7 linked regions of the Homo sapiens genome follow. The protein of the gene in region 4 purifies or fractionates together with the protein of the main gene of each other region. This does not show direct contact. Each region holds a gene or a part of one and is shown on either strand. Other genes may lie near its edges. The genes, in order: PRKD2, RAB3B, TVP23C, TACR3, TTYH3, MFSD8 and FARP2.

Region 1 (3,500 bases), on a different chromosome or scaffold from region 4:
AGAGACCAGCCTGGCCAACATGGTGAAACCCTGTCTCTACTAAAACTAGAAAAATTAGCTGGGTGTGGTGGCGGGTACCTATAATCCCAGCTACTCGGGAGGCTGAGGCAGGAGAATCATTTGAACCTGAGGGGGTGGAGGTTGCAGTGAGCCGAGATCATACCATTGCACTCCAGCCTGGGTGACAGGGTGAGACTCCGTCTCAAAAAAAAAAAAAAAAAAGAAATCCAGTTTCTCCAATATCCTGTGTTCCAGATCATCATGCAGTCCAAAGTATACTTGTATTATTTAAGGACTCTAGGCCTGCAGATACTGATTCAGTGCATTAAAAGCTCTTATAAATATTGCCATCGTCCACACACCATATCCAACTCTTGAGGTCTCAGCATATGCAGTCTTTGTCATGATACAGCCCTGGTGTCATCAAGTCCTAATGGGTTATCAGCACAGACTTCACTGGTGCAGCATCACAGATGATGGTCCCAGTTCCTATGGTGGCAAGAGAACCCCAAATGACTACATTCCGACAGGAGTTTAACTCTATCCTGAGACTCATTCTGAGAGTTATAGATAAGATTCTGAAATTCTGGAAGGCACATGAGTGATTCAAGGCCAACACTGGGAAATGGTTCCTGTGTGCAAAGACCATTTGCCCTGCTGAAGCTCTTCTTGCAGGGCCAACACCGTTCTCCAAGCTTGCCTCCGTGATTACAGCATGCAGCCAAGACAGTGCCTACAATGAGGAGGTGTGGAACTGGAAAGCCTGGAGCAGGCGGGTACCAGAAGGGCTCCCAAAGGCTGGAGGAACATTCTTCACTCCAGAATAGAAAGCGATCCTGGAATCGTTTGGAATCACTGGAGATGTATTAGAGCACACATACAGAACGTCCAGTGGGAAACAGGGAGTTGAGCTGATTTCTCCATGGATGAGGATTTTAAAAGATAAAATAGGCAGGGCACAGTGGCTCATGCCTGTAATCCCAACACTTTGGGAGGCTGAGGTGGGAGGATCACTTGAGCCCAGGAGTTCAAGACCAGCCTGGGCAATGTAGCGAGACCCCATCTCTACAAAAAAATAAAAATAAAAAAATTATCTGGGCATGGTAGTGTATGTCTGTGGTTCTGGCTACTCAGGAGGCTGAGGCAGGAGGATTACTTGAGCCCAGGAGTTGAAGGCTGCAGTGAGCTATGATTGTGCCATTGTGCTTCAGCCGGGGGTACAGGGAGATCCTGTCTCTACAAAATAAAATAAGACAATAAGAAGTCATACTTCTGCCTAGTATGGTACAATGGACCTGAGTACAACTGAGAACTCTTTTTTTTTTTTTGAAACTGAGTCTCGCTGTATTGCCCAGGCTGGAGTGCAGTGGCGTGATCTCAGCTCACTACAACCTCTGCCTCCTGGGTTCAAGTGATTCTCCTGCCTCAGCCTCCGGAGTAGCTGGGATTACAGGCGTGTGCCACTACACCCGGCTAAGTTTTGTATTTTTAGTAGAGATGGGGTTTTGCCATGTTGGCCAGTGTGGTCTCAAACTCCTGACCTCAAGTGATCCGCCGGCCTTGGCCTCCCAAAGTGCTGGGATTACAGGCGTGAGCCACCATGCGTGGCCCACACTACTAAGATTTAATCACACTACTTAGGGATTGCCTGGATTCCAGGTCTACAGAAAAGAGAAAGTGGGGTACAGGGGGTGAGCAGACCTGGAGGGATAGTGACCTTAGGGGTGGGGGTGAGGAGAGGCATTTTCTTTTGGAAAGTTGGGGTTGGGGAAAGAGGGGGAACCAAAGGGGCCTCAGAAAAAGGAAGGTCAGGGTTAGAAGGGGGAACAGGTGTCTCTAGGGAGATGGACAGGAGTTTTGGGGAGGACTAGAAGGAGGTGCTTACCATAGAGGACTGGGGCTGGGTCAGAGCTTTGGCGGGGACTTTTGAGGCATCCATTGTTGCAGTGGGAAAAGGTGGGGTGTGAGGCGCGTTCAGGGCCTGGGGGGCAGATGGGGTGATGTCGGGGCTACAAGCTGGAACTAGGGGTGGAGCTTTGGAGGGAACCTTTGAGGTATCCCTTGTTGGAGTGGGAAAATTTTGGGTGTGAGGCGTGTTCAGGGTCTGGGGGACAGATGGGGTGATGGCAGGGCTACAAGCTGAAACTGGGGACAGAGCTTTGGGGGGAGCCTTTGAGGTGTCCCTTGTTGGAGTGAGAAAAGGGGTGTGGGTGTGTTCAGGGTCTGGGGGACAGATGGGGTGATGGTGGGGCTACAAGCTGGAACTTGGGGCAGAACTCTAAGGAGGGGTGGGCCTGAAGGGGCTGATACACTTACGGATAGTAGTGCCTTTTGGAGGAGATCGTGCTGGCGGGGGGTGATGGGACAGGACCAGGTGAGAGATTGGGTGGAAAGGGCACAACTTCTCAAGAAGAGACCTAGGAGGGGCAGACGCCATGTCTCTTACTCTCTGGCGCCCCCTGCAGGCTGCGGGCTGAACTACCACAAGCGCTGTGCCTTCAGCATCCCCAACAACTGTAGTGGGGCCCGCAAACGGCGCCTGTCATCCACGTCTCTGGCCAGTGGCCACTCGGTGCGCCTCGGCACCTCCGAGTCCCTGCCCTGCACGGCTGAAGAGCTGGTGAGGAGATGGGGGATGGGACGGGTTGGTGGCTAGGGGGGTGACTTGGCCCAGGCATGGGGCCAACGCACTGATGTGTCCCCTCCATTCTTGCCAACGACAGAGCCGTAGCACCACCGAACTCCTGCCTCGCCGTCCCCCGTCATCCTCTTCCTCCTCTTCTGCCTCATCGTATACGGGCCGCCCCATTGAGCTGGACAAGATGCTGCTCTCCAAGGTCAAGGTGCCGCACACCTTCCTCATCCACAGCTATACACGGCCCACCGTTTGCCAGGCTTGCAAGAAACTCCTCAAGGGCCTCTTCCGGCAGGGCCTGCAATGCAAAGGTTAGCTGGGCCTGTCGGGGAGGACAGACAGGGTCAGAACCTCCTTCCCGCCCCAACCTGGTCTTGTGGCAGGACACAAGGATCTGAGCCTTGGGACCCCAGGGCCTCAGAAGGGGAGGGCCCTGAATCCTAGTGTTCTGGGACCTTTGGAATTCTGGAATCTTAGAACCTCAGTTGTGTGTGTGTGTGTGTGTGTGTGTGTGTGTGTGTTGTTGTTGTTTTTTGGAGACAGGGTGTCACTCTATCACCCAGGCTGGAGTGCAGTGGCGCAATCACGGCTCACTGCAGCTTCAACCTCCTGGGTTCAAGTGATCCTCCTGCCTCAGCCTCCCAAGTAGCTAGGACTACAGGTGGTGCCACCACACCCAGCTAATTTTCTTTTCTTTTTTTTTTTTTTGAGACGGAGTCTCACTCTGTCGCCCAGGCTGGAGTGCAGTGGTGTGATCTCGGCTCACTGCAAACTCTGCCTCCTGGGATCAGGACATTCTCCTGCCTCAGCCTCCTGAGTAGCTGGGACTACAGGCGCCCGCCACCATGCCTGGCTAATTTTTTTG
Region 2 (3,500 bases), on a different chromosome or scaffold from region 4:
CCTCCGCCTGCCAGGTTCAAGTGATTCTCCTGCCTCAGCCTCCAGAGTAGCTGGGATTACAGGCAGCCACCACCACGCCCAGCGAATTTTTTGTATTTTTAGTAGAGATGGGGTTTCACCATGTTGGCCAGACTGGTCTCGAACTCCTGACCTCGTGATTCACCCGCCTCAGCCTCCCAAAGTGCTGGGATTACAGGCATGAGCCACCGCGCCCAGCCCTTACTTTCTTTTCTTTTTTTTTGAGACAGTGTCTTGCTCTGTCACCCAGACTGGAGTGTAGTTGTGCAATCTTGACTCACTGCAGCCTCCGCCTCCTGGGTTCAAGCAATTTTTGTGCTTCAGCCTCCTGACTAGCTGGAATTACAGGTGTGCGCCACCACACCTGGCTAATTTTTATATTTTTAGTAGAGACTGGATTTCACCATGTTGGCCAGGCTGATCTTAAACTCCTGAGCTCAAATGATCCGCCTGCCTCGGCCTCACAAAGTCCTGGGATTATGGGCCTGAGCCACGGCACCTGGCCTCAAAATCTCATATTTTTGTAGTACTTTTGGTACTACTAAATTTTTGTAGTATTTAAGTACAGTCTTGCATTGCTAATGACAAGGATATGTTCTGAGGGATGTGTCATTAGCCGATTTCATAGTTGTATGAACATCATAGAGTATACTTACACAAACCTATATGGTATATGGTATAGCTTACTATACACATAGTCTATATGGAATAGATAGCCTATTGCTCCTAGGCTGCAAACCTGTACAGCATGTTACTGTATTGAATGTAGCAGGCAATTGTAACACAGTGGTAAGTATTTGTGTAGCTAAACACATCTAAACATAGAAAAGGTACAGTAAAAATATGATGGTTTTTTTTTTTGAGACCAAGTCTGGCTCTATCACCCAAGCTGGAATGCAGTGGTGCAATCTCAGCTCACTGCAACCTCAGCCTCCCGAGTAGCTGGGATTACAGGTATCTGCCACCATGCCTGGCTAATTTTTTGTATTTTAATAGGGATGGAGTTTCATCATGTTGGCCAGGCTGGTCTCTATCTCCTGACCTCAAGTGATCCACCCACCTTGGCCTCCCAAAGTGCTGGGATTACAGGTGTGAGCCACTGCACCCAGGCATAATATGGTATAAGAGATAAAAAATGGTACACCTATATAAGACACTTAACCATGAATGGAGCTTGCAGGGCCGGCAGTTGCTCTGGGGGAGTCAGTGAGTGAGTGGTGAGTGAATGTGAAGGCCTAGGACATTACCATACACTATAGGAGACTTTATAAACACTCTACACTTAGGCTACACTAAATTTATTTAAAAATATGTTTCTCCAATAATAAATTAACTTTGGCTTACTATAACTTTTAAACCTTATAAACTTAAAAAATTTTTAAAACTTCTTAGACTCTTTTATTTTTTATTTATTATTATTATTATTATTTTTTTGAGATTGAGTCTTGCTCTGTCACCCAGGCTGGAGTGCAGTGGATCTCTGCTCACTGCAACCTCCACCTCCCGAGTTCAAGCAATTCTTGTGCCTCAGCCTCCTGAGTAGCTGGGATTACAGGTGCGCACCACCACGCCTGGCTAATTTTTGTATTTTTAGTAGAGATGAGGTTTCACCATGTTGGCTAGGCTGGTCTTGAACTCCTGACCTTAAGTGATCTGCCTGCCTCGGCCTCCCAAAGTCTGGGGTTACAGGTCTGAGCCACCATGCCCAGCCATAGACTCTTTTATAACAACACTTAACTTAAAGCACAAATACACCGTATGGCCTTTTTTGAGATGAAGGCTCAGTGTGTCACCTGGATTGGAATGCAGTGGTGCAATCATGGGTCACTGCAGCCTCAAACTCCTTGGCTTGAGCGATCCTCCCACCTTGGCCTCCCAAAGTGTTGGGATTATAGGTATGAGCCACTGAACCTGGCCTTTTCTTTCTTTTCTTCCTTAGTTTTTAAATTTATGTTTAAAATTATTTTGTTAAAAAGGAAGACACAAATACACACACCTGAGCTTAGGCCTACACAGGGTCCAGGAGCATCAATATCACTGCCTTCCATTTCCATGTCTTGTCCCACTGGAAGGTCTTCAGGGGCAATAATAGGCATGGAGCTGTCATCTCTTATGGCAATATCTTCTTCTGGAATACCTCCTGAAGGACCTGCCTGAGGCTGTTTTACTGTTAACTTTTTAAAAAATATTAAATATAAATAGAAAAAGTACACTCTAAAATAACAATAAAAAGTGTAGTAAGTAAATACAGAAGCCAGTAACATAGTCATTTATTATCAATATCAAGTATTATGTATAGCACATAATCATATGTGCTATACTTTTATACAACTGGCAATGCAGTAGGTTTGTTTACACCAGCATCAACACAAATATGTGAGTAATGTGTTGTGCTACAATGTTACCATGGCTACTATGTCACTAGGCAATAGGAATTTTTCAGCTCCATTATAATCTTATGGGACCGCCATTGTACATGTGGTCTGTCATTGACTGAAATGTTGTTATGCAGTTCATGATTGTACTTTTAAAATTTAAGTGATTTGCTAAATGATAACATACCATATATTCTAGCCTATACCTTGTACATATGATGTCAGCTATTACAATATGCATAGAAGGTATAGACTAGAATGCATGGTATGTTATTTATATAGAAATAAAAAGTATAAATAGGTCTCTTTGCTTATATATGCAAGGGCTATCTCTGAAGGATATATAAATTGATAACATGTATGCCTCTGGGGAGGGGAACTGGATCAGGAATCAGAGATGGAAGCAAGACTTACTTTTCAGTGTAAACCTTTAGGTTTCATATTACTTGTATTTTATGCTAGGAATTAAGAAAATAATGCAGCTGGGTGTGGTGGCTCTCGCCTGTAATTCTAGCACTTTGGGAGGCCACGGAGGGCAGATCACTTGATCCCGGTTTAAGACCAGCCTGGACAGCATGGTGAAACCCCATCTCTACAAAAAGTACAAAAATTAGCTGAGCATGGTGGCACATGCCTGTAGTCCCAGCTACTCGGGAGGCTGAGGTAAGAGGATTGCTTGAGCCCAGGAGATCAAGACTGTAGTGAGCCAAGATAGTGCCATTGCACTCCAGCCTGGGCGACAGAGAGAGACCCTGTCTCAAAATAAAATAAAATAAAATAAAAATAATAATAATTGAGCTACAGCTGGTAAAAAAGGTAATACTTGCAAATAGGATATGCTTGAATTATTTTCCGTAAGTATGTATTACCTTTTAAATTAACAAATAAAACATAGTATTAAAATAGATGGCTTTTTTTTAAAGTACAATTTCCATTTTATTTTTCTCCAGGAAATAGTCCATCTTCAGTCTTTAAGGACTCAGCTCCTTACATGGGCTTTGGTGGGGGTCGTGGGGCAGCACCTACAGGTCTAAATCAGGGTGGGGGTGTTTGGTCCTTGCGGGCTTCATGAGATCGATTCCTGACTACTTTGCTGTGAATTGCACA
Region 3 (3,500 bases), on a different chromosome or scaffold from region 4:
TTACTGTGCTGCTGATTTTTCTGTGCCATATTCTAACCTACATCAGCTTTAAAGTCAAATAAACAAACAAATGTGACTAGCAACCATAGACCCTACAATGTTGCTTCTAATCCATACCATGGGTTTTGCTTCAGGCTTACCTGTAGGTGTGTTGTATATAATTTCTAGATAAGGCCCCAGTGTAGTTTGTCCACAAATACCTAAAAAATACCTACCTTTTGAAAAGGCTCCTATGGATGCTTTAAGGCAGTGTTTCTCAACCAGAGACAAGCTTGCCACCCACTGAATATTTGTCAGTGTCCAAAATTGTTTTTGGTTGTCATGACTGGAGGTGGGAGGAGTGTGCTATTGACATCTAGTGGCTAGAGGGCAGGTATGCTGCTAAATATCCTAACACACAGGACGGCCCCTCTGCAACAAAGAACTACCTGACCCAAAATGTCAGTTGTGCCAAGGTTGAGACACCCTGCTGTAGGGGATAGAAAGGAGTGTAAGAAATGGTTTCAAACTCAAGAACAATGATTAGAGAGATGGATGGATGGATAGATAGGTACATAATAAATAGATAAGTAAGCATAATAAAATATTAAATATGGACTCTAGATGATAGATATTTGGGTATTCACTGTAAAATTTAACTGTGTGTGTTCGAAAATATAGTAAAATAGTGGAGAAAAAAATCAAAGGCTGATTTTGGAGTTTCAGAGACATATACTGATTCAAAGACTAGTAAGATGTTACAACCCTATTCACATCCACCAATGTAGCCATTTTTAGATCTTTTAATTCTTTTTTTTTTGAGACGGAGTTTCACTTTTGTTGCCCAGGCTGGAGTGCAATGGCATGATCTTGGCTCACCGCAACCTCTGCCTCCTGGGTTCAGGTGATTCTCCTGCCTCAGACTCCCGAGTAGCTGGGATTACAGGCATGCACCACCACGCCTGGCTAATTTTTTTGTATTTTTAGTACAGACGGGGTTTCTCCATGTTGGTCAGGCTGGTCTCGAACTTCTGACGTCAAGTGATCTGCCCGCCTCAGCCTCCCAAAGTGCTGGGATTACAGGCGTGAGCCACTGCGCCTGGCCATCTTTTAATTCTTAAAGATATCTGAAGTGGTTGGCTTGGTGATGGCCAGTTTCCGTAGGCCGCATAATGCTGAGAAGGAAGATTTCAAAGGTCTGTTTTCTTTAGGTTTTTCTTTTGTCCAGTCTTCTTTGGCTTGCATTTCTTTGAATTTCTTCTGTTACTTTATGCTCCAAAGTATTTAGTACATACTGCTCACAGTTTTGATACACGTTTCTTTTTGTTGTTCATAAAATTTCTGTTTAGCCAAATAGAACATGCTTTCCAGTCAGTTCTTCCTGGTAATTTCCAAATTCTTAAAATTTTTCTGGGTTTAGAGTTTTAAAAAATGCGATCAAAATAGTTTATTTTCTGATAAGGTTTATTTGTTTGTTTATTTTTGTTTTTAAACAAGAGCTTAAAAAATGGCACCCTTTTATCCTTGGCAAAATTACTTATAGATAGCAAAACAATGGAGATATGAAGCAAAATTAAGAAGTCAAGAATAGGGAAATTATTAAGTGGACTTGGGATAAGCAGGGTTCTGAAACAGTTAAAATGGAGATGTGTCGTAATTGTTATAAATCTCAATGTACTTACTAAAAAAACAAAAAATCAATCTTCATCTAAACCCCTGGGTGTCCAATCTTTTGGTTTCCCTGGGCCACAGTGGAAGAAAGAATTATCTTGGGCCACACATAAAATACACTAACATTAGCTGATGAGCTTAAAAAAAAAATCGCACACAAAAAAATCTCATAATGTTTTAAGAAAGTTTACGAATTTCTCTTGGGCCGCATTCAAAGCTGTCCTGGGCAGCATGAGGCCTGTGGGCAGAGGGTTGGATAGGCTTGCCCTAGGTGATGTTAATGAAGATAAAGAAGAGGTAGAGAAGGGAAAATAATTTAAAGGTATGCTTAAATGCTAAAGCTTATATTGGTTTTTATTTTATTCTTCACTCTGACAAATTGAGTAAAAAAGGTTAAATAATGGCTTTAAAAATTTAATGGCAACTATGGCTGGGCGCGGTGGCTCATGCCTATAATCCCAGCACTTTGGGAGGCTGAGGCGGGTGGATCATGAGGTCAGGAGATCGAGACCATCCTGGCTAACATGGTGAAACCCCATCTCTGCTAAAAAAAAAAAAAAAAAAAAAATGAGCCGGGCATGGTGGCAGGCGCCTGTAGTCCCAGCTATTCAGGAGGCTGAGGCAGGAGGCGGAGCTTGGCAGTGAGCCGAGATCGCGCCACTGCACTCTAGCCTGGGCAACAGAGCAAGACTCCATCTCAAAAAAAAAAAACAATAATGGCAACTATTAGTAAAATTTAAAACCAGTCGTGTATCTTCTGCAACATTGGAGAAGATGGAGCAAGTAAAACAGTTCATAGAGCAAAAGAAGGAAAACAAAGCAACTGTCAAGGAAGCTTAAATCAGAGAGTACATGTATAAAGTGATGTAAGTAATAGCAAATTCATTATAATAGGAAATGTAATTTGATTAAACTACCCATTTAAAGACAAGAATACTAAGATTGGTCAGAAATCAAAGTCCAAACAAAAGATCTAACCAAATTAATGACATTAGAAAAAACAAAAGAAGGCAAAGATAACATCAGGCAAAAATAAAAGAAGGCAAAGATCAACTCAAACAAAAAGAAACTTGGCATTGTATTATTATCAGATGAGATATGGATCAGAGTAAGAAAGCACTAAGAGGAACAAAAAAAGGTGATTTTATGAATCACAGTGAAGATCATTCACAGAGTAAAATTATATCAAACTATGTATAGTAAAAAAATTGGAAATATTAGAAAATAGAAAAGCATTATGATGAGTTTAACAAACTACTATCTTAAACAAACCAAAGTGCCAAAAAATAAATAAGTTCTGAAGGATCTGAATGAAATAATTGGCAACATCAATTTGATAGCAGTATTTGGGACTTTGTATGACAGAGAGAATACTTTCTTGTTAAATGCCTGTGGAACATTTACAAAAATTGACTAAATATCACTGTGAAGAAAATCAAAATAAAATTGCCCAAAGCACCTACATTTTCTACTCCAAAGAAACAGAACTAGAAATTAATAGAAAGTAGTTGTTGAAATTGGAATTCTTTTAAAAAAGCGAACTACTACATATCTTGGGTTTAAAAGGAAGCAAAAACTGTAAATATAAGTTATTTATACCTTAATGGTGATCATTTACAGTTAAACTTTCTGAATATGTCAAAAACTGAATTCAGAGGGAAAATAATAGACTAAAGCCTTTTATTTTAGACAAGAAAGAGGGAAAATAATGGACTACTTGAGTCCAGAAATTTCAAAAACAAGCAATAAGTGTGAGAAATCAGGAAAATAAACTAATAAAGATAAAAGCAGGAAATAAAGAGTTAGAAAATGGAAACAGAAGAGTTTGAAAGTATTCTGAGAGCATTCTT
Region 4 (3,500 bases):
GATATATTTTATAAGTTAAAGAAAACCTTTCTGAGGTTGACACTGAATCATGGTGCCTTCTGCATGGACTTACTGACTCATTTAGCTAAGAATATAGTAAACAGTATATATTTCCCAATTTAGACTACAATTGAAGTGTGAAAACTTCAATTATTTAATTTTGAGTGTTTTCTATCCCCACTGAATATAAACTGAATTATATCAACCTAGCCTAAATGGAAAATATATTCAATTCGCTTTGTTCCTGTGCCTAAAATCAAAAGACCCGTGATCTTGAAAATAATTGCAACTTTGACTTGGGCACATATGGCTTTTGTTCAGCTGTAGCAAAATGGTTGCAGCCTCTTATGACTCTGAGAAATGACAGATATTCCCTCAATGAACGCCTGTATCTTACAAATGGAGAACCTTAAGCTAATGGTCACACAATTGTTATAATAAAAGGCATTGAGTTTTCCTTGAAGTGTTCAGCACTCATTTTGTACTGGAAAAATTACTTACTTTCTATTTTCACGATTTAAATAATATTAGTAAGTTTACTAGATTTGACTGTGAGATCACCAGTTCTGGTCTTATTCTGAAGCACATTAACTTCTGATTTGCTACAAAGTCCTGCGAAACTGTTTTCTAATTTGCCAGAAATCCATCTTCTAGTTCTACACATTTCCTTCTTGCCTAGAAGTCTACTTTACCACTACCAGTACCTGTCTCCTCACCCCTATACCTCCAACACACACACACACACACACACACACACACACACACACACAAGATAAAATTATTTGTCAGTGAAGAGTTGCTTTTCTCTCCACCATCCTTCCCCAATTTGCCATTTTGAAAAATAACATATAAATGTAACACTTGCCTCAAAGATGATAAGCTTTTCCAAGATTATGCAGTACAGTCAAGATTCAAATCACTGCAGTTAGCTCCAGGGCCAGTGATTCTCTTCACCTCTACACTATTATGACACCTAACAAGTTGTGATGACTGCAGGGTTTGATTAGACAAAGTCATTACCTTTAATCAAATTAGAATTTAGTACTAGTTTAAACTGTTTATCTTACATGTATATATAACATATCTTACATATATATATATTCTATGTTTTACTTGAGAAAGTAGAAGGTAGAAAATTATTAATAGAACAGTTATTACAATACAAATATTTTGATTTCCATTCATTTACGGCATATAGTACTTGATGTATGGTCATATTAGAAAATAGTTACATATTTTCTTTCATTTTCTAAGCACATGCTTTGAGATTAGGTTAGAAATTATAGGAAGTTTTATTATAACATATAGTAAATGAAAATTTCAGGGCATATGATCCAGTATTGATCTGAGTATTTAATTAAATATTTTTTTAAACCACATACACTGTTTCTTGTAAACCTTAAGGGAGTGTGTTAGTCTGTTCTCACATTGCTATAAAGATATACCTGAGACTGGGTAATTGATAAAGAAAAGAGGTTTAACTGGCCCATGGTTCCCCAGGCTATACAGGAAGCATAATGGCTTCTGCTTCTGGAGAGGTCTCAGGAAACTTACAATCATGACAGAAGACAAAGCAGGAGCAGTAGTCTTAAATGGCAGGCAGGAACAGGACCAAGAGTGAGAGAGGGAATGTGCTACACACATCTGAACAACCAGATCTCACAAGAACTCTATCAGGAGACAGCACCAAGAGCATGGTGCTTCACCATTCATGAAAGATCCACCCCATGATCCAATCACCTCTCTCCAGGCCCCACTTCCAACATTGGGGATTACAATTCGACATGAGATTTGGGTGGAGACACAGATCCAAACCATATCAAAGAGTAATTACTGTTTTATCTAATTGTTCAAAAGCTTTAAGAAAGATAGCAAAAAAGTTGTTCTGTAAATCCAGTGGCATACCTTACATGAATAATTATTAAAAGGAGCGTTCAACAAAACTGTGTAAGAATAGTAATGGCCAAGTAGATAAAAATTGGTCTTCTATGCTACCCTTTGTTGTTTTTAATTTATTTGGTAATCTTCTATTTCACTTTTACATAAACCTAATTTATGCAAAGTACTCAAAGATCCTCTAGGAAGAGCTTTTGAAAATTATTCTGAACGAATAAAAATATAGAGTCATGAGAAATACTGAGGTCTTAATCTAGTAACAGATTATCTAAATGTATTGTGGTAAATTTTGCATCATTACCAACATTATAGATATGAACTCTGCTAAATTTTTAAAAAATCCTTTTTCGGTCTTTAATTTGAGTACCAAGTGCAATATCCTTTCTCTGCACTCTAGGAAAAGTCACTTTCCATGCAGTTAATACTCTTTATTAGTGTTATAGTTATACTTGACTCACTATCACTAGTTACCGCAAATGATGAACTTTTTAGCCTAAGATCAACTGTTACATATTTTTGAATTATTTACAAAATAGTAACTAAAACTATGGTAAAATTAACTTTCAGGAAACTTATCATAACTGTTTGGCTCTTTCTAAAATTTGTAATTCTCATTCAATAATTTTAAAATATCCCATTTGCATCCACTAAAATTACTGCTCTAGTGAGTTGTCAAAGTTCAGTTAAAATTATAGTGCCAATTCTTATAAAATTGTGAGCGTATAGTGAAAGCAATAAATATATATTAATTGAATGGGTAATAAGATTATCACAGAATCATATGTAATCAGAGGTTGCTCTTTTATAACTAGCTGAACTCCGGCTGATATCAAGGTTATATTAACCACAACAGAAAAGTGTATGTCAAACAAGAATTTATGGCATATTTAACAGGCATAAAAATCCTTAATATATAACATATTCTTATTTATTAAAGAAAAAGTATATCCCCAGTGTAAAAAGAACAAAAGACATAAACAAAATCCAAAAAAAAGAAAAATGTCTAACAAGCATGAAAGTATCATTTGCTTATATCCCATATTTTCATTTCCTTATGTGCTATTTGCTCTTAAAGCCACTCAAATCTCATTATTTTCCCAACACTGTCCAAAGAGCCACACTGAGAAATCCAGTGGACATTTCAGTCCTTGACTTCTTTGACCCATGAGCAATATTCCTCACAGGTGGCTACTGCCTAGAAGTCTCACCTCTCGGCTTCCAACTTTTCTGATATCCTTCCTCCTTAGCCTCTCTTCTTTGGCTGTATTTCTGAATCTCTGCCTATACATAATGATTAAATGCAAAAGTTGCTTTATACTAAGTTCTGGGCCTGTTTTCTTCTTCTTTATTTCCTGTCCCCAACCAATCTCATCCAGAACCATGACTTTATTTTCCACTGTGATTGAAGAGCTCCTATTTTTTTCTGTCTAATTGATTTTCTGTCTTTTTTTTCCTTATTATTATTATTATTATACTTTAAGTTCCAGGGTACATGTGCACAATGTGCAGGTTTGTCACGTATGTATACATGTGCCATGTTGCTGTGCTGCACCCATTAACTCGTCATTTACATTAGGTATATTTCCTAATGCTATCCCTCCCCC
Region 5 (3,500 bases), on a different chromosome or scaffold from region 4:
TGGGGTGTGTTTTGGGGATCTGAACTGGGATATGGGGGACTCGTGGTGGGGGCACCTGCAGTGGGGTATGCACAGGAGGCCTGTGTATCTGGATCAAAGGGAGCCAGATGTGGGTGAGGTGAGGCCTCAGATGAGGGAGAGGCCAGTGCCGTAGCAAGAGCTCTGAGTCCCCAGTTGCTGAGCGAGGGTTCAGCACAGGAGGGCTTGATCTAGCTGACGTTATCAGGCCCCTTGGGCTGCTACGTGGGCGGCGGGATGCGGGGACCCACGTGAAAGTGGACACTGTTGCCTGTTCAGGAGAGGGACCTGGGGGACAGGAGGGGCGGGGCCCCAAGAGCCACGTGGCCCTCCAGTCCTGCTTCCAGCTCAGATCTCTGAGCCCCACCCCACCTAGGAGAGGGATCCATCTGGGCCCTGGGCTGTGGGCAGCTCTGGCTGAGGCCAGGCCACAGGAAGAGCCCCAGCCCATGTGTGGGCTGACCCCTGATGTGCACTGGGACCTGCCTTCTGGCCTGCAGCCCAGCAGGTGGCACGGCCCCCACCCTGGCCTGGGGGCTGCTGACTGGCTGTCTCTGCCCCAGGGTCTGCCTGCTGGGAGTCCTGGCCCTGGTCATCAGCTGGGGCGCGCTGGGCTTGGAGCTGGCTGTGTCCGTGGTGAGTGGCAGAGGGGGTGAGGTCCCCGGCTGCTGGACCTGGGCACTGGGGGAGGGACGAGGGGAAGCCACACTCCTCTCCCCTCCCATCTTCCCGGGCACTGGGTCCCGAGAGCGGTGGGGACCCACCATGGGCACAGTCCACCTGTAACCCCAGATTCACAGTCCACCCTCCTGAGTTGAAAGCAGACTCCAGGGGACGGGTTCTACCCCCGAGAGCTTCCCTTTAGGCCCAGCTTGGTCAACCCCTCTTGCTTGCCCACGCCCACCTCAGGGCTCCAGCGACTTCTGTGTGGACCCTGACGCCTACGTGACCAAAATGGTGGAGGAGTACTCGGTGCTGAGTGGGGGTGAGTCTGTGTCCACGGCCGTGTCCCAGCGGGTTCCCCAGGGTTGGGCTGAGCCAAAAGAGTGGGGTAGCTGAGGCCGAGACACCCCTGCCCTGTGGGTCCATGGTCTCAGGGAGACAGGTCCCAGGCCAAGATGCTAGTGAGCAAACAGGACCACCTTTCCCAAGTGGGAGGCTCTGCAAAGAATGACAGGAACTATGTGGGGTGGCGGGTGCCCGCGTGGCAGGGGGAGCGGCAGGTGACCCAGGGCTGCTTCGAGTAGATGCCCAGGGGAGGCCAAATGGGTGGCATTAAAGTACAGCCAGAGGTCTGGGTGCAGTGGCTCACACCTGTAATCCTAGCACTTTGGGAGGCCGAGGCGGGTGGATCACCTGAGGTCAGGAGTTCAAGAGCAGTCTGGCCAACATAGCAAAACCCTGTCTCTACTAAAAATACACAAATGAGCTGGGTGTGGTCGTGGGTGCCTGTAATCCCAGCTACTCCGGAGACTGAGGCACGAGAATTGCCTGAACCCAGGAGGTGGAGGTTGCAATGAGCCGAGATCGCACCACTGCATTCCAGCCTGGGCAACAAGAGTGAAACTCCATCTCAAAAAAAAAAAGTAGAGCCAGAAGGACGCTGCATCTCTTCTAAGAGCCCCGAGGCAGGAGGCAGACCCGAGGGGAGAATGGAGGGTGGGAGGCCAGTGGGGCTGAGTCTCTGTGGCAAGCTTCGCTTTATTCCAGGGGGAGGCCATTGGAGGGAGGGAGGCAGGGGAGAGATTTGACCCATGATTGAAGGTCCCTTTCAAAGCTTCCTCAGGCCTCAAGGGTTACAAGAGTGGGTGAGGAGGATACCTCAAGCAGGAGACAGCAGGGGCTTGAATAAATGGAGCAAAAGGTGGACAGGGATGGGCTTTGAGGGCGGAGCTGGCAGGACTTCCCGGTCAGTTGGATGTAGGGAGCGAGAGGGACGGAGCAGGAGTTGGCGTCCCTGGTTTCAGCAGCTCTGTGCTGCGGGACCATAAGCTGTACTGTGGGTGGGGGAGCAGGTCTGGAGGTGGGGGGCAGGGAGCTGGGGCATCGGGAGTTTCGGCCCCCTCGGGAGGTTTGCGATGTGTGTCGGACGGCACAGAGGCAGGTGGACGTGGGAATCTGGAGATCGGGGTGCCGTCAGTGTGTTAAGCTTCTCAGGCCCCCCTTGTGGAATTATTGTGTGTTCCCCAATAGGAAATAGAAGGCCTGTCCCTGTGGGGGTGAGGGTTACTGAATGACCTTGAAGGTGACCATCCTGCCACCCTTTGTCCCTGGAGGCCACAGGATTGGCTTGTGGGCTGGTTTTTTACCTGCCTTTGTTGAAGGAACCACTTCCACCAAAGCCTGAAGAGCCTCCTGGAGGAAAAGTCATCTGCCGCCCACTGACCTTGTCCTCGGGGGCGAGGGTGGAGGGGTGGGCCCGCTCTGCTAGGGGCGGGGAGGGCTGGTGACCGCTCAGTGCTACCCACCACTGTCCTTGGCCCCGGTGCTATCATCCTGGTCCCTCCAGGTCCCTACTGTAGCCGGCGGCCTTTGGGGGGATCTCATCAAGTATGAGCAGCGCCCCCTACACGTGTACATGTACACACGTAAGTGTGAGCTCCAGCCTGCGGGCCAGACAGCCCCTCCCAGAAGGCAGCAAGGCCAGCCACGCTGGCTTCACTGCACAGGCGGCCACAGTGATGCCTGGTGCTCTCCTATGTTGTTAAATACTTTCATCATTTTTTGAACTTTTAAAATGTTTTTTTTTAATGTTCTTTTATAATTGGAAGAACTGAACTTGTAAAGAGTTCGGAAGGTGGAACCCAGGCAAGGGGCAGTGTGTGGGGACTCTGGCTTGATGGGAGCCCAGACCCCACTGCCACACACACAGACATAGGCATGTGTGTAAATGCATGCAGACACACATGCGAAGACATGTACACACAGACATGCACACATATAAACACACAGACACATGCACACCGGCACACGTGCACACGAAACGTGCACAGAGACACATGCACGTGTAAGTAAACATGCAGACACATGCACATGTGTAAACAGGTGCACACAGACACACATGCACACATGTAAACATGCACGCAGATGCCCTGAAGATATGCGTGCAGACACAGGCAGACGTGCACGCAGTCTCACAGGGACAGCTGTTGCAGCTCAGCCTTCCCTGATGTCTCTCCGCAGACATCCTGCAGTACTACCTGGCCTGCTCGCCCCGCGCCGCCAACCCCTTCCAGCAGGTGAGAGCCTGGGAGGCCGGGACTGGGCTTCAGGAGAGTCTGAAGCACATTGCTGTGTGTGGAGGGGCCCAGCAGGCCTGGCGCCTGGCTCCTCAGCCTGCAGGACTGGGGAACTGGGGGAGGGAGCTGGACAAAGGCTGTGTGGATGTCACCAACAGCCCCTGGGGTTACCATGCCGGTGACCTGGTGACCTGGCTGAGAGCCTTTCGGGGGGACCTGCTCAATGCACCCGCATCGCTGGGA
Region 6 (3,500 bases), about 24 Mb from region 4:
CGGGAGGCGGAGTTTGCAGTGAGCCAAGTTCACGCCACTGCATACCAGCCTGGGCGACAGAGCAAGACTCTGTCTCAAATAATAATAATAATAATAATAATAATAATAATAATAATAATAAATAAAAATAAAAAATAAAATACTGGAAAACTGAATTCAGCAGCACATCAAAAAGCTTATCCACCACGATCAAATCTGCTTCATCCCTGAGATGCAAGGCTGGTTCAACATACACAAATCAATAAATGTAATCCATCTCATAAACAGAACCAATGACAAAAACCACATGATTATCTCAATATATGCAGAAAAGGCCTTTGATAAAATTCAACACTCCTTCATGCTAACAACACTCAATAAACTGATATTGATGGAACGTATCTCAAAATAATAAGCGCTATTTATGACAAACCCACAGCCAGTATCATACTGAATGGGCAAAAACTGGAAGCATTCCCTTTGAAAACCGGCACAAGACAAGGATACCCTCTCTCACCTCTCCTGTTCAACATAGTGTTGGAAGTTCTGGCCAGGGCAATCAGGCAAGAGAAAGAAATAAAGGGTATTCAATTAGGAAATGAGAAAGTCAAATTGCCTCTGTTTGCAGATGACATGATTGCTGTATTTCTTAAAAACTAGTACTTGCATCTAGAAGCTTGATGAAATTTGGGTTCAATTTTTTGGCAAGAATACTTTATAGGTGGGAATATGTGCTTATATCAGAAGAAATATAATGTTTTGTTTATCTCTTCTTAACATGTAAGTAGCCACTGATTATTCCATAGATCCATTAATTCATTAATGAATCATTACAAAATTCTGGTATTTTAATTCTATCATTCCTTTATTTATTTGCTAGAATACTTACCATGAAGAGAATCTTTCCCTCACCAACTATTTGGTTAACCTGAGCTATAGTTGTATAGGAAAGGCAGGATAAAGGCTTGATTATTTTCTTTTGTTTCCCTAACATCCTCAAAAACTGACCAAAGAGTACTTTATTTTAATATACTATGAATTCATAGATTATAACACTTTTTTTTTTTTTGGCGACAGGGTCTTGCTCTGTCACCCAGTTTGGAGTGCAGTGGTGCCATCACAGCTCATTGCAGCCTTGACCTCCTGGGCTCAAGTAATCCTCCTGCCTCAACCTCCTAAGTAGCTAGAACTACAGGCACCAAATACCACTCCTGGCTAATTTTTAAAATTTTTTGTAGAGATGGGGTCTTGCTATGTTGCCCAGGCTGGTTTTGAACTTCTGGCATCAAGCAGTCCTCCCGCTTTGGCCTCCCAAAGTACTGGGGTTATAGGTGTGAGCCACTACACCAGGCCACAGATGATAATACTTTTTGTGTGTTTCAATCCATTGCCATTATTATTCTGTTTTGGTACTCACATTGTCACATTTTTGGCCAGCTTCTTCAAATTGGCTGAGTCAAAAAGACTCATGACCTAGTAGTCACTGATAACTTCTGTGCTTTTTGCTGTGAAAGATCTGAGCTCATCTACTTTTTGTGTCCCAGACCTTAAGTCAGCCATTTTTCAGAGGAGTCCTGGTTATTTTTAGTGGAAAATTATATTTAGCATTCTTTTTAATGGATATATCACTAAAAGTACAAGATATTATTTTTAGTTTTTAAAATTATGAAAGTAATGAAGCTATGTTATAATGTTTCATTTTAAAATTACAGAGTTTCTGTTCTTTAACAGGATTGGCGAGCGTGCTATTCTACTGGGAGGACTCATCGTTGTATGGGTTGGCTTCTTTATCTTGTTACCTTGGGGAAATCAATTTCCCAAAATACAGTGGGAAGGTATAGCCATACATAATTCTATAATGTTAACCTCTGTTATTTATCTAAAATCAACAAGTAATGCACTGCAATGGTTTTGTTTTTACAGATTTGCACAATAATTCAATCCCTAATACCACATTTGGGGAAATTATTATTGGTCTTTGGAAGTCTCCAATGGAAGATGACAATGAAAGACCAACTGGTTGCTCGATTGAACAAGCCTGGTGCCTCTACACCCCGGTGATTCATCTGGCCCAGTTCCTTACATCAGCTGTGCTAATAGGATTAGGCTATCCAGTCTGCAATCTTATGTCCTATACTCTATATTCAAAAATTCTAGGACCAAAACCTCAGGTAAGCCAGGTACCCTGACATTGCAATTATAGAAAATATACTTGTAAGCACTCAACATTTTTTGCTGCCATTCTCTATTTTTACACAGACTGATTTGAGGGATTTTTATCATATTCAGCATTTAAAATTTTTAAAAATCCCACAACTTCTATAAAGTTCATTCTTGGGTAGGTTATGTGGGTTATAGTTTTGGATACAGAAGTTGTAGGAGTGGCATTGTGGTAGAGTGTAAAGTGGCACAGTGGAGTCAGCCAAATATGGCTTCAAACCTCTTGAACAAGTTACTTAAACTTTCTGAGTTTCAGCTTCTACCTTTGTTAAACAGGCATAACACCTGTCATCGAAACTTGTGAACATTACAAATGATGTATTTAAAGCACCTACCTCAGTGACTGGCATGTAGCAGGTACAAAATAAATGTTAGCTTTAAAAGGTATTTTAATCAATTTTATTATTCCCAGGGCTTCAGCAGACAGTAAGTTTTTCCCTTTACACTCCTTTTATTTTTTTTAATCTGACTTAATATTAAATGCTATATTTATAGGAGGCATTTTATGTTTAATTTAAAAGTAAAAGATGCAGAAATGATTCTTGTAAGTTTGCTGTAGTTTGGTAATACCATTTCTTTGCTTTTAAATAACTAAACCCCAATATCAATCTGCTTGTCCTCCATTTCACCCCCAACAGGGTGTATACATGGGCTGGTTAACAGCATCTGGAAGTGGAGCCCGGATTCTTGGGCCTATGTTCATCAGCCAAGTGTATGCTCACTGGGGACCACGATGGGCATTCAGCCTGGTGTGTGGAATAATAGTGCTCACCATCACCCTCCTGGGAGTGGTTTACAAAAGACTCATTGCTCTTTCTGTAAGATATGGGAGGATTCAGGAATAAACTAGCTAAGACTGTGATGGAAACTACTTGCTGTGTGGCACTTCCTGGTCTAAAGCTCTGCTAGACAATTGCGGTGAGCCAGTCTCCAAGAATCAGACTACAGATATTGCAGATTTTGAAGAACAAGAACATATGTTGAATAACAGAGAGAATTCTACATGTCATTGTGAATAGTAGGTTATATAAAAACATACTAGATGATAATTTCCTTACCTCAGAAATGAAATATTATTCTTATAATACCTTTTTGTGGTTGCATGAACTAATGAGTGAATGGACAATGATGAATAAATGTGAAGCTGTATTCTTAATACCCACTGCAGAAGTGTCATTAAAATAATATACAGTGGAACCAGAAAGAGGGTTCTGTAAGAATTAGCCATAGCAGAACAAAATTATAGAATTTTAAATACCTCTACCCAAGTAGAGGTATTTTTATTCAGACACCTACTTTTT
Region 7 (3,500 bases), on a different chromosome or scaffold from region 4:
GACTTTATCAAATGGAAGCCTGTGTCTTTGCACTCGAGTTCTTTCTGGGCATTCTGCTCCATTCCTGTCTGTCCAGCATCAGTCCACTCTCTCTCATTAGTGGTGTCATATGAGATAGTCACTGTTTGGTGAACACATTCCATCCCTTATTCTGCCTCCTTTTAAAAAAGATTCTTTGCTATTCTCAAGCATTTAATTCTTCCAAGTAATCTTCTAAGTCATTGGACAAATTCCTTACAAAAACACCATGGAGATTTCAGTTGAAATTGCATTAAATTTTTGTGTTAACTTACGGGAAGACTAACATCTGGACAATGTTTTGCCTGCCCTTGCTTATGTTGATTCAGATTTTTGATGTCCAGTGAGAGGCTTGGTTGGTGTATCAGGCTCTGCACAGGGAAGCTGTCCATTCTGTGGAGTTGTTGGTAACTGGCTGGTCCTGGGGACAGAGAACTGGCCCTCGTTCCTGACTGTTAAGGGAAGGATGATGGCTCTTGGCTTGAAAAGATCATCTTTATCATGTTAACACAGTTTCCTTCTGTTTCTAAGAGGTATTATCAGAAATAACACCTTGGATTTTGGCAAAGGCATTTTCAGCATGTAGAGAATGGATTTCCCTTTTTCTCTTTGACTTCTGATAGGATGAATGTTATCAATCAGCTTTCTAATGCCGAACGATCCTTGCATTCCCCAAACAACCTTACTTGATCGTGGGACAATTCCTTGTTACATGCTTTTAGATTAGATTTGGTAATATTTTATTTTGCAATTATTTCATCTAACTACTTAAAATTAAAATTAATCCACAGTGGGTTTTCTTTGAATCTAGCTCTGTTAGGTTTTGGTCTTTGGTTCATAAATGAATTGTCCAACTCCCTTTTGGATAATCAAAATGCTCAACATTTTTTCCTTTGCTTGATTTTCAGCTAATAGTGCTGGACCCCCCGGTGAGTATTTGGGTGCCCTCTGGCCCATGGCTCACCCCCTGGGGTGCAGCTGCCATGGCGCAGGGATACCAGTGTCCTCCTTGGCCTCTTGTAGAGTCTGTGTGCACTTGGACAGCACTGGGCTTCCAAGCCCCACCTAGCATTGCCAGCAGTCACCTTGTGTCCTGCTCAGGCTTAGGCTGTCAGTTCCTTCTTGGCCACAAGACTTGGACCGTTTCTCCCACCCACAGGTGGAAGAAAGTGATAACGAGTGGTCTGTTCCACACTGTTTCACCATCTACGCGGCTCAGAAAACAATCGTGGTGGCAGCCAGGTAAGGGTCTTCCATGTCTCCATCCTGAGCAGCCCTGGATGGAGGGGTGGGGACTTCCTCGCCATGAGCCTCTGAGTCCTCTGAGCTGTGAGGAGCCATGTAGCCTCATGGGGTTGTGCCCCCTTTGACTCTGAGCTCTGCTTCCAAGTCACACAACCAAAGGAGCAGCCTCGCCCTTGTCAGGGGCAGGGCTGCTTGCCAACCTGACAACACCCCACAAGTGGCAGGCCCCAGTGCTGTGGAGCCGCTCCCTCTGCCCTCCGGTTCACAGTGCCTCCAAAGACAGGACGGGTGAGTGGGCAGGCTCCTGTGGTCTCCCAGGGCACAGGCGCTTCCCCAACCCTCACGTCAAGAAGTGCCAGCAGCTAGTGGTCAAAGCCCCAACAGGGCAGCTTACACCCAGCCCAGCCAAACACTGCCTCCCAGTCCCAGTGTGGTATAGACTCACATGAGGCAGCCCAGGCTATGGCACAGAATCAAGTGGAAACAGCTCCCTCCTCCCCAGATAAGATCAACAGAAGGATGACACTGAGCTCATTTGGCGGCCAGGATGCAGGGGCCCCTGCATGGTCACCAGCACCACACTGTGCTCTGTGAGGAGTCTCAGCTCTGACTCTGCAGCGCCCTGGCCAGCATCAGAGCACAGGGCACTCAGTTCCCACCAGGAAATGCTCACTTAATCATGAACCAGGGCCAATCTTGCATTTCAGCATCACAGATGTAGAGAACATCATTTCAGGAACAAATACCCCTGCAGACCCCCTGTTCTAGGACCGGGGCCCTGCCCTGGCACCCACAACCCTGTCACAGCACCCTGGAGGTCAGGCTGATGCAGGTCCCTCCCAGCTCTCCTCCCTGCTATTCTCGCTGGAGGGGACACGTTTCCCAGTCCTCTCACCAGGCAGGACAAAGCAGAATGTGAGAGAACAGGTGCCCTGACGGCTCGCCCTCCCTTGAGGGCTGGGGCCCTACACAAGGAAGAGCAGAGCCACTGAGCCTTGCCCTTCTCCCTGCAGCACTCGGCTGGAGAAAGAGAAGTGGATGCTGGACCTGAACTCCGCGATCCAAGCAGCCAAGAGTGGCGGTGACACGGCCCCTGCACTGCCAGGCCGCACTGTGTGCACTCGTCCCCCCAGTGAGTGCTGGCCACAACCCCCCAGGAGACCTCCACTACACCTAAGGAGGCTTTTTTTGGAAACTGTTTTCCTTGGTCCCCATTGGCCCGCTAAGTTCCCACACAATCCCCTTCCACAAGGAATGTTCCAGGCTACGCCTCATGCCTGGGCGGGAAGAGGTGTCAATCAGCTGCTCTGGCAGAAGCACCTGTAGTTTTGCTCTCAGCCAGCAGCTGGCCTAGCACCAAGGGCTCCCCATTTCCCCAGGACCCCCGAGAGGAACCCAAGGGGTGGAAGTATTTGGCAAGCAGAGGCCACAGGGGGTTCCCCCTGAGACGCTGCTGACTTCTCCCCAGGATCCCCCAACGAGGTATCTCTGGAGCAGGAGTCAGAAGATGATGCTCGGGGTGTCCGCAGCTCCCTGGAGGGGCATGGCCAGCACCGGGCCAACACCACAATGCACGTGTGCTGGTACCGGAACACCAGCGTGTCCAGGGCAGACCACAGTGCAGCTGTCGAGGTACGACCGCATGAGCACCACCTCAGTGCATCTGGAATGTTCCCAGCTGTCTCTGCACTTGGCTGCTGAGGAGGGGACCTCAGGAGGGTACCAGCAGGCAGGCTTGGCCCCAGAGGACTGCCTCTTACTCTCCCCTTGGTAGAAGTTGGTATGGAAAGTGCCCCTCATCCAGTCAAGCCCTCTTTGAAAAGGGTGTTTCAGGTCTGGTGTCTGATGAAGTCCAGCAGGCGGGGCGTGTCCTCAGGGCCTGGAGCTGGTGTGTAGTGGAGCTGAGAAAAGCCTTCCCAGACACATCCCCTGCAGCCCCCCGTCCCAGTGCCTCCAAAACCCTTCACCTCGGGCTTGGAGCTCGAGGCTCTGCCCAGGCACCCTGCCATAGAAGGTTGTCAGCTCTATCTCACTGCATGGGCCCGGTCTGCCATTGTGGGTCACCAGGTTCCTCAGCCTGGTGCCCCCACACCCTTCCCCAAGCCTGCTGTCTTACTCCACCCAGAGCTCTTGTCTTTTTTGCTGTCTCCCCATAATTCACCCCAGCCACAATCGGCTGGGCAGGGGCTCAGGAGCTACCCCAGCACCCCCGTGAGGGGGCTGAGCCCGAGCCTCTC

Evidence for each region.
Region 1: the proteins of TACR3 (region 4) and PRKD2 purify together in Homo sapiens (affinity purification with mass spectrometry; one large-scale study listed by BioGRID and IntAct). This does not show direct contact.
Region 2: the proteins of TACR3 (region 4) and RAB3B purify together in Homo sapiens (affinity purification with mass spectrometry; one large-scale study listed by BioGRID and IntAct). This does not show direct contact.
Region 3: the proteins of TACR3 (region 4) and TVP23C purify together in Homo sapiens (affinity purification with mass spectrometry, with the first as the bait; one large-scale study listed by BioGRID). This does not show direct contact.
Region 5: the proteins of TACR3 (region 4) and TTYH3 purify together in Homo sapiens (affinity purification with mass spectrometry; one large-scale study listed by BioGRID and IntAct). This does not show direct contact.
Region 6: the proteins of TACR3 (region 4) and MFSD8 purify together in Homo sapiens (affinity purification with mass spectrometry; one large-scale study listed by BioGRID and IntAct). This does not show direct contact.
Region 7: the proteins of TACR3 (region 4) and FARP2 purify together in Homo sapiens (affinity purification with mass spectrometry; one large-scale study listed by BioGRID and IntAct). This does not show direct contact.

The regions. Positions count from the first base shown.
Region 1 is NC_000019.10:46,703,615-46,707,114, reverse strand, and holds part of PRKD2 (serine/threonine-protein kinase D2), read left to right. Parts: intron 1-2,465; coding exon 2,466-2,620; intron 2,621-2,723; coding exon 2,724-2,946; intron 2,947-3,500.
Region 2 is NC_000001.11:51,980,701-51,984,200, reverse strand, and holds part of RAB3B (ras-related protein Rab-3B), read left to right. Parts: intron 1-3,313; exon of another isoform or gene 3,314-3,500. UniProt on the Homo sapiens protein: The small GTPases Rab are key regulators of intracellular membrane trafficking, from the formation of transport vesicles to their fusion with membranes.
Region 3 is NC_000017.11:15,549,984-15,553,483, reverse strand, and holds part of TVP23C (Golgi apparatus membrane protein TVP23 homolog C), read left to right. Parts: intron 1-3,500.
Region 4 is NC_000004.12:103,713,486-103,716,985, reverse strand, and holds part of TACR3 (neuromedin-K receptor), read left to right. Parts: intron 1-3,500. UniProt on the Homo sapiens protein: This is a receptor for the tachykinin neuropeptide neuromedin-K (neurokinin B). It is associated with G proteins that activate a phosphatidylinositol-calcium second messenger system.
Region 5 is NC_000007.14:2,648,986-2,652,485, forward strand, and holds part of TTYH3 (protein tweety homolog 3), read left to right. Parts: intron 1-581; coding exon 582-654; intron 655-927; coding exon 928-1,003; intron 1,004-3,201; coding exon 3,202-3,257; intron 3,258-3,500. UniProt on the Homo sapiens protein: Calcium-independent, swelling-dependent volume-regulated anion channel (VRAC-swell) which plays a pivotal role in the process of regulatory volume decrease (RVD) in the brain through the efflux of anions like chloride and organic osmolytes like glutamate.
Region 6 is NC_000004.12:127,920,174-127,923,673, reverse strand, and holds part of MFSD8 (major facilitator superfamily domain-containing protein 8), read left to right. Parts: intron 1-1,710; coding exon 1,711-1,814; intron 1,815-1,902; coding exon 1,903-2,150; coding exon of another isoform or gene 2,151-2,159; exon of another isoform or gene 2,160-2,837; coding exon 2,838-3,044; 3' UTR 3,045-3,500. UniProt on the Homo sapiens protein: Outward-rectifying chloride channel involved in endolysosomal chloride homeostasis, membrane fusion and function. Conducts chloride currents up to hundreds of picoamperes.
Region 7 is NC_000002.12:241,488,785-241,492,284, forward strand, and holds part of FARP2 (FERM, ARHGEF and pleckstrin domain-containing protein 2), read left to right. Parts: intron 1-926; coding exon of another isoform or gene 927-947; intron 948-1,177; coding exon 1,178-1,260; intron 1,261-2,276; coding exon 2,277-2,395; intron 2,396-2,731; coding exon 2,732-2,895; intron 2,896-3,500. UniProt on the Homo sapiens protein: Functions as a guanine nucleotide exchange factor that activates RAC1. May have relatively low activity. Plays a role in the response to class 3 semaphorins and remodeling of the actin cytoskeleton.